3 separate regions of the Homo sapiens genome follow, and all the other regions are linked to region 2. The links come from fine-mapping of genetic effects on plasma protein levels. A gene starts in region 2. Each other region holds a variant in brackets. All regions are shown on one strand. Distances are between the middles of the regions.

Region 1 (2,765 bases), 1.2 Mb before region 2:
CAAAAGAACAAAGCTGGAGGCATCACGCTACCTGACTTCAAACCAAACAGCATGGTACTGTTACCAAAACAGAGATATAGACCAATGGAACAGAACAGGGCCCTCAGAAATAACGCCGCATATCTACAACTATCTGATCTTTGACAAACCTGAGAAAAACAAGAAATGGGGAAAGGATTCCCTATTTAATAAACGGTGCTGGGAAAACTGGCTAGCCATATGTAGAAAGCTGAAACTGGATCCCTTCCTTACACCTTATACAAAAACTAATTCAAGATGGATTAAAGACTTAAACATTAGACCTAAAACCATAAAAACCCTAGAAGAAAACCCAGGCATTACCATTCAGGACATAGGCACGGGCAAGGACTTCATGCTAAAACACCAAAAGCAATGGCAACAAAAGCCAAAATTGACAAATGGGATCTAATTAAACTAAAGAGCTTCTGCACAGCAAAAGAAACTACCACCAGTGTGAACAGGCAACCTACAAAATGGGAGAAAATTTTCACAACCTACTCATCTGACAAAGGGCTAATATCCAGAATCTACAATGAACTCAAACAAATTTACAAGAAAAAGACAATCAACACCGTCAAAAAGTGGGTGAAGAACATGAACAGACACTTCTCAAAAGAAGACATTTATGCAGCCAAAAGACACATGAAAAAATGCTCATCATCACTGGCGATCAGACAAATGCAAATCAAAACCGCAATGAGATACCATCTCACACCAGTTAGAATGGCAATCATTAAAAAGTCAGGAAACAACAGGTGCTGGAGAGGATGTGGAGAAACAGGAACACTTTTACACTGTTGGTAGGACTGTAAACTAGTTCAACCATTGTGGAAGTCAGTGTGGTGATTCCTCAGGGATCTAGAACTAGAAATACCATTTGACTGAGCCATCCCATTACTGGGTATATACCCAAAGGTCTATAAATCATGCTGCTATAAAGACACTTGCACACGTATGTTTATTGCGGCACTATTCACAATAGCAAAGACTTGGAACCAACTCAAATGCCCAACAATGATAGACTGGATTAAGAAAATGTGGCACATATACACCATGGAATACTATGCAGCCATAAAAAATGACGAGTTCATGTCCTTTGTAGGGACATGGATGAAACTGGAAATCCTCATTCTCAGTAAACTACCTGAAGAACAAAAAACCAAACACCACATATTCTCACTCATAGGTGGGAATTGAACAATGAGAACACATGGACACAAGAAGGGGAACATCACACTCTGGGGACTGTTGTGGGGTGGGCGGATGGGGGAGGGATAGCATTAGGAGATATACCTAATGCTAAATGACGAGTTAATGGGTGCAGCACACCAGCATAGCACATGTATAATATGTAACTAACCTCCACATTGTGCACATGTACCCTAAAACTTAAAGTATAATAATAATAAAATAAAATAAAATAAAGAACTTAAACAAATTTACAAGAATAAAGCAACCCCATCAAAAAAGGGGAAAAGGATATGAACAGACACTTCTCAAAAGATGACATT[T/C]ATGCAGCCATCAGACATATGAAAAAATGCTCATCATCACTGGTCATCAGAGAAATGCAAATCAAAACCACAGTGAGATACCATCTCACGCCAGTTAGAATGGCGATCATTAAAATGTCAGGAAACAACAGATGCCGGAGAGGATGTGGAGAAATAGGAACACTTTTACACCGTTGGGGGAGTGTAAACTAGTTCAACCATTGTGGAAGTCAGTGTGTTGATTCCTCAAGGATCTAGAACTAGAAATACCATTTGACCCAGCCATCCCATTACTGCATATATACCCAAAAGGATTATAAATCATGCTACTATAAAGACGCATGCACATATGTGTTTATTGCAGCACTATTCACAATAGCAAAGACTTGGAACCCACTAAAATGTCTATCAGTGATAGACTGGATTAAGAAAATATGGCACATATACACCATGGAATAATATGCAGCCATAAAAAAGGATGAGTTCATGTCCTTTGCAGGGACATGGATGAAGCTGGAAACCATCATTCCCAGCAAACTATCACAAGGACCGAAAACCAACGACCACGTTTTCACTCATAGGTGGGAATTGAACAATGAGAACACATGGACACAGGGCAGGGAACATCACATACCAGGGGCCTGTCGGAGGGTGGGGGACTGGGGGAGGGATAGCACCAGGAGAAATACCTAATGTAAATGACAAGTTGATGGGTGCAGCAAACCAACATGGCACATGTATACCTATGTAACAAACCTGCACGTTGTGCACATGTACCCTAGAACTTAAAGTATAATAAAAAAAGAAAGAAAGTGACTGGATGTAGCCATGTAGACTTAAGAACAAAAAAAAAAACAGGGAGAGAGAAGGCTGATTATAAAATTTACATGTAAAGACAAGGAAATTAGAATAGCCCAAACAATTTAAAAAAAAAAAAAAACTTTGAGGATTCAGACTAGTAGACAACACAATGTGTTATTGGATAAATAATAGACACATAGATTAAAAGAACAGAATAGAGAATTCAAAAATAGATCTACACAAATATGAACAAAATAGGCTTTTGATAAATGTGCAAAAGAATTCAGTGGAGACAGTATAGTCCTTTCAGCAAATGATCCTGGGACAACTGAACATCTGTATGGAAAAGCAGAATTAAACCTCAACCCATACCTCACAACTTGTTCAACAATTAACCCAAAGTGTATCATAGGCCCAAATGTAAAATATAAAACTTTATACACAAGAAAATTT
Region 2 (2,732 bases):
TCTCTCCCAGATGGGTCATACAGGCTCTCTGCCTCCCTGGCCATCAGCTGAACCACTATCTATGGCTCCCTTCCCTGCCCTCCAGCCTCCAGGGTGCTATCCAACACATGTGATATCTACATGTAGTATCCATGTCCTCATCTCTCCCCCGAGAGCTCCCTGGAAAGAGCTGAGCCAAGGCCTTGCAAAAAAGGTGGAGAAAGGGCCAGGGCCTGGACATTTCATGTTCCCACCCCAGCCTGGCCACTAGGAGTGTTCTACGCAGGCTCAGATGGATGGGGCTGGCCTCACAGTGGGGTCTGGAGGACTAAGGTTTGGTTTCTCTATGCAAGGTCAGAAAAACTCCCACAGTACAGGGAAACTGGCCAGGGCTGCAGACTCAGACCACAGTGCTAAAGCCATGAACTCCACCTGCTCTCTGAAGGCTCGCCAACCTGAGTCCAGCAGAATGTTCTCGCTTGTGTCCAACCCCACTGGTTTAGGCTGAATCAGCCTCTAGGGCCCAGAGGCACTGCACCTGGAGTAGGGAGCTTCTCCAGTATCAGAGTCACCTTCAGAGGCCTGGAGCCTTTCATAAAGCAGGTAAGAGGACTCAATAGATGCATCTGCATGGAAAACATCCTCCCCTCTACCAGGCACCTGTATGTACAACCAATCACAGCAGCACACATACACCCAGAAATGGGCACGTGTGGGCCCACACCCCTTTAGCTATGAAACCCAGGCATGGGGCAGCTTGAGCCAGATACCTTGTGCAAACACAAACTCGTGCTGTCTTCTCTGAACTCCATTGTGAAAATCAAACACTTGTCAGCCCCTCAAGAGCCTTTAGATTTCCTACTTCCACACTTCCACAGAAAGGCCTCTGGAGTTGGGGGATGCTGGGGTTATGTAGGAAATTAAGCCTGGAGGGCCTTGCTGGGGAAGCCATTGTCCCTGTACCTGAGATGGATGCAGCCACAGCCCTGGAGCCAGCCTGAAGCTCCTGGTGTCTTCTGGGGGCTACATATAGGAGTGTAGTCCGAACCTCAGAGGGGCAAACCTGCTCTGCAGAGGGAATCAAGGTTCACATAACCAGAGAGGGGAGTCACTCAGGAAGGTGGCTCCAGAGCCAAGAGTCAGACTCTGGGTCCCGACTTGACCCAGCCACACCCCCTCTGAAGCTTGCTGAGAGTGGCTGCAGTCTCGCTGCTGGATGTGCACATGGTGGTCATTCCCTCTGCTCACAGGGGCAGGGGTCCCCCCTTACTGGACTGAGGTTGCCCCCTGCTCCAGGTCCTGGGTGGGAGCCCATGTGAACTGTCAGTGGGGCAGGTCTGTGAGAGCTCCCCTCACACTCAAGTCTCTCACAGTGGCCAGAGAAGAGGAAGGCTGGAGTCAGAATGAGGCACCAGGGCGGGCATAGCCTGCCCAAAGGCCCCTGGGATTACAGGCAGGATGGGGAGCCCTATCTAAGTGTCTCCCACGCCCCACCCCAGCCATTCCAGGCCAGGAAGTCCAAACTGTGCCCCTCAGAGGGAGGGGGCAGCCTCAGGCCCATTCAGACTGCCCAGGGAGGGCTGGAGAGCCCTCAGGAAGGCGGGTGGGTGGGCTGTCGGTTCTTGGAAAGGTTCATTAATGAAAACCCCCAAGCCTGACCACCTAGGGAAAAGGCTCACCGTTCCCATGTGTGGCTGATAAGGGCCAGGAGATTCCACAGTTCAGGTAGTTCCCCCGCCTCCCTGGCATTTTGTGGTCACCATTAATCATTTCCTCTGTGTATTTAAGAGCTCTTTTGCCAGTGAGCCCAGTACACAGAGAGAAAGGCTAAAGTTCTCTGGAGGATGTGGCTGCAGAGCCTGCTGCTCTTGGGCACTGTGGCCTGCAGCATCTCTGCACCCGCCCGCTCGCCCAGCCCCAGCACGCAGCCCTGGGAGCATGTGAATGCCATCCAGGAGGCCCGGCGTCTCCTGAACCTGAGTAGAGACACTGCTGCTGAGATGGTAAGTGAGAGAATGTGGGCCTGTGCCTAGGCCACCCAGCTGGCCCCTGACTGGCCACGCCTGTCAGCTTGATAACATGACATTTTCCTTTTCTACAGAATGAAACAGTAGAAGTCATCTCAGAAATGTTTGACCTCCAGGTAAGATGCTTCTCTCTGACATAGCTTTCCAGAAGCCCCTGCCCTGGGGTGGAGGTGGGGACTCCATTTTAGATGGCACCACACAGGGTTGTCCACTTTCTCTCCAGTCAGCTGGCTGCAGGAGGAGGGGGTAGCAACTGGGTGCTCAAGAGGCTGCTGGCCGTGCCCCTATGGCAGTCACATGAGCTCCTTTATCAGCTGAGCGGCCATGGGCAGACCTAGCATTCAATGGCCAGGAGTCACCAGGGGACAGGTGGTAAAGTGGGGGTCACTTCATGAGACAGGAGCTGTGGGTTTGGGGCGCTCACTGTGCCCCGAGACCAAGTCCTGTTGAGACAGTGCTGACTACAGAGAGGCACAGAGGGGTTTCAGGAACAACCCTTGCCCACCCAGCAGGTCCAGGTGAGGCCCCACCCCCCTCTCCCTGAATGATGGGGTGAGAGTCACCTCCTTCCCTAAGGCTGGGCTCCTCTCCAGGTGCCGCTGAGGGTGGCCTGGGCGGGGCAGTGAGAAGGGCAGGTTCGTGCCTGCCATGGACAGGGCAGGGTCTATGACTGGACCCAGCCTGTGCCCCTCCCAAGCCCTACTCCTGGGGGCTGGGGGCAGCAGC
Region 3 (2,765 bases), 1.2 Mb before region 2:
TGTAACTTGCCCAAAGTCATATAGTAAGAAGGTGGCAGAGCATATATTTAGACATTAGCAGTTGGAGTCCAGAACTTATGTACTTAACCACTACTAACATGACTTCCAAATGGAATGAAATTAAACATTTGTGAGTCCAGATTCATATTTTAGATGTCCCTAAATATTATTCAAAACACGTCTGTTTACCTATATTTTCCTACTTAGCTTTATAGGAACAACCAAGCAATTTCTGCATGACTACAATTTTAAATGTCATAGAACTTTATGTATTACCCAAATTATTATGAGACATAGATAATAGAACAAATTAATAATGAAGAAAATTATTCCACTTCCAATATTAAGCAGATTATCCACTTACAATGATGTTACAATTACAAAGTAATATTTTTATGTAATGATTAGCACATATCTAATACCTATGGAATAATAACCTTGTCTTATGACAACTGAGATACTGAAGCTACATGTTAGAAAATATGTATTTAGTTATTAGCATGGTTCCTATCAAATTCTTGGTAACTGGGATATAGTAGCCGTGATCATTACAAATAAAGTCACTCTAAAAGATAAGCAAAGTAAGCATGGCATATGCTGTTCTTAAAGACAAAAACTGTAAAAGAAAACTAAAGTTGAAAAGCATTAGCCTTTCTTGAATCATACTTAGTTTTGGAATGTTCTCAAGGTTCTAAAACATCTACAGCAAAGAAGAGCAGAAGCAAAACAATATATAATTAGATTCTGTGTGATTGGATAGTAAAAAGATATAAATGTCTTTCAACTGTAAATTCCTAAAGGGGAAAGAATGCAGCTGAAGAAAGTTTCAGAAAAATATAGTTCTGGTATCAGACTATGTCCTATAATCTTTGTTTTAACCTCCATTTATAACAGAGAGAATTATGGAAACATTTTTAATATAATCAATATGATCAGGTTCAATGGACTCTGGAATAAGGAAAGGGTTTTCATAATACTAAGAAACTATTTTAGTACCCCAAATAACTTCCTAGATTTGCACAAATCAAAATAAGCCTATAAGTCTCTAGTGTACTTAGGCAATCGTGATTCCATAATGAAGGGATCTGAAGCATCAGGTGGCCAATGCTTAATGTACAATCCTTTTGTTTTTTGAGATGGAGTCTCGTTTGTCACACAGGCTGGAGTGCAGTGGGGCAATCTTGGCTTACTGCAAACTCTGCCTCCCCGGCTCAAGCAATTTTTGTGCTTCAGCCTCCTTAGTAGCTGGAATTACAGGTACACATCACCACCCCAGCTAATTTTTGTATTTTTAGTAGAGACAGGGTTTCACCATGTTGGCCAGTCTCGAACTCCTGACCTCAAGTGATCTGCCCACCTCGGCCTCCCAAATGCTAGGATTATAGGCATGAGCCACTGTGCCTAGCCTTAATGTACAATCCTTGAGTACTGCAATGATCAGAAAATGAAG[T/C]GTAGTCATCAGAACTGTCTTTTAAACATAAGAAAAGATCGGAAGATAGTCAAAATCTTCAAGTAATTTGAAAACATGGTAAAAATGTGAATGCTTTGGGTGGTGGGAGCAACCAACACCTTCTCAACCATGCCAATGATTCTTCATTGAATAAGAATTCTGTTGGTTTCCATGAAAAATATAAATACTAATATTCCCATTTTATTAATGAAGGACCTAAAAGCTCAAATGACCTACTTAAGGTCAGGCAATGAGTCAAAACTAGAAATAGATACTATGTCTGCTGGCACTACTCCTTAAATGAGGAAACAAAAATATCATTTTGAGTTCATTGAAACTTTACTGCTATAAAATTGAAAAAAAAAATCAAAGAGTATGATTTCAAAAAAAGACAATATATATTTTATAGTATGTATAGATTTGTCTTTTGCCATTTTAACTTCAAGGAATATGGCCTTAATTTAGGTTGGAAAGTTTTTCTGAAAGCAGCAGCAACAATTTTCCACCTGGGCAAGTAAATATGCCACGGAGTCACCATTCATCTCAGTCATTCTTTTCCACAGTAAGTGGACATGAAAGAACTAAATGAACATTAAACAAAGCTTGCCATATTCAGTAAATCTCCCCAGGACCTTGAAGACAGATTGAAATAAAGTACTGTCCAGATTCATTTTCTGCATTAACCAACATAAAATAATTAAATAGCAAAACTCCAGGAGGCCCATAGGCCATTATTAACAGATCTGTAGAAATGGAGAGGAAAATATTTGGTAGTGGAGACAGGACTTAACTGCAGGGTAAATTACTTGTGAGTACTGGAGGAGAATCTTTCAAACAGCCCTTCATTCAGCTCAAAAGTTTATTCTTCTTTGTAAAAATAGAATGGTGTGGTGGGTGAGTCCATCCTGCTCCAGAAGTACAAAAGGGAGCATTTTGTCATAGTTGGGCATCAGCAGTCATAACTGTAGCATTGCACAATCTGAGCAAGAACTAATGGAAATAGAAATAAGCAGAGCTGTAGATGTAAACCTGATAAAGATTCTGTGCTTGAATGCTGAACTTTAAGGAATTACTAGTATAAAGAGAAAAAATTCTTCCAATGACCATATCAGCCCTGATGAGAGTGACCAACTGTGACAAACACAAAATTAGGGTACATCTTGGCTCACAGCAATGCCAACACCACCATATTTGTGCTGTTCCACTACTCTGCTGCCCATGATTGGTGAAAATAGAGGTTAAAAACACTAGAAAAAAGTCGGATGAGTCCATGCCTTTCTCCTGAGAATCTGGAGTTCAAACAGAAAGACATGGG

Which allele goes with the higher level. Alleles are on the strand shown, and positions count from the first base shown. The strength of an association depends on the size of the effect and on how common the allele is.
In carriers of allele C in region 1, the plasma level of the protein whose gene starts at base 1,789 in region 2 tends to be higher than with T alone (weak association).
As copies of T replace C in region 3, the plasma level of the protein whose gene starts at base 1,789 in region 2 goes down (moderate association).

Evidence for each region. PIP is the posterior inclusion probability: the model's chance that the variant is causal. The UK Biobank Pharma Proteomics Project read protein levels with antibody pairs (Olink). The fine-mapping took linkage between variants from a reference panel, not from the people measured, so its PIPs are less certain.
Region 1: its variant is fine-mapped to the plasma level of the CSF2 protein (UK Biobank, PIP 0.95).
Region 3: its variant is fine-mapped to the plasma level of the CSF2 protein (UK Biobank, PIP above 0.99).

Annotation. Positions count from the first base shown.
Region 1 is chr5:130,902,238-130,905,002 of GRCh38, forward strand. No RefSeq gene overlaps it. Among named protein-coding and RNA genes, the nearest start is that of HINT1, 260 kb to the right of the region's middle. The variant T/C (reference allele first, on the strand shown) is at 1,533.
Region 2 is chr5:132,072,001-132,074,732 of GRCh38, forward strand. CSF2 (colony stimulating factor 2) reads left to right here and starts at 1,789. Exons shown (of 4, transcript NM_000758.4): 1 at 1,789-1,982; 2 at 2,081-2,122. The coding sequence starts at 1,824.
Region 3 is chr5:130,853,358-130,856,122 of GRCh38, forward strand. The region is part of intron 1 of LOC107986449 (a long non-coding RNA gene); the gene reads right to left. Among named protein-coding and RNA genes, the nearest start is that of HINT1, 310 kb to the right of the region's middle. The variant T/C (reference allele first, on the strand shown) is at 1,451.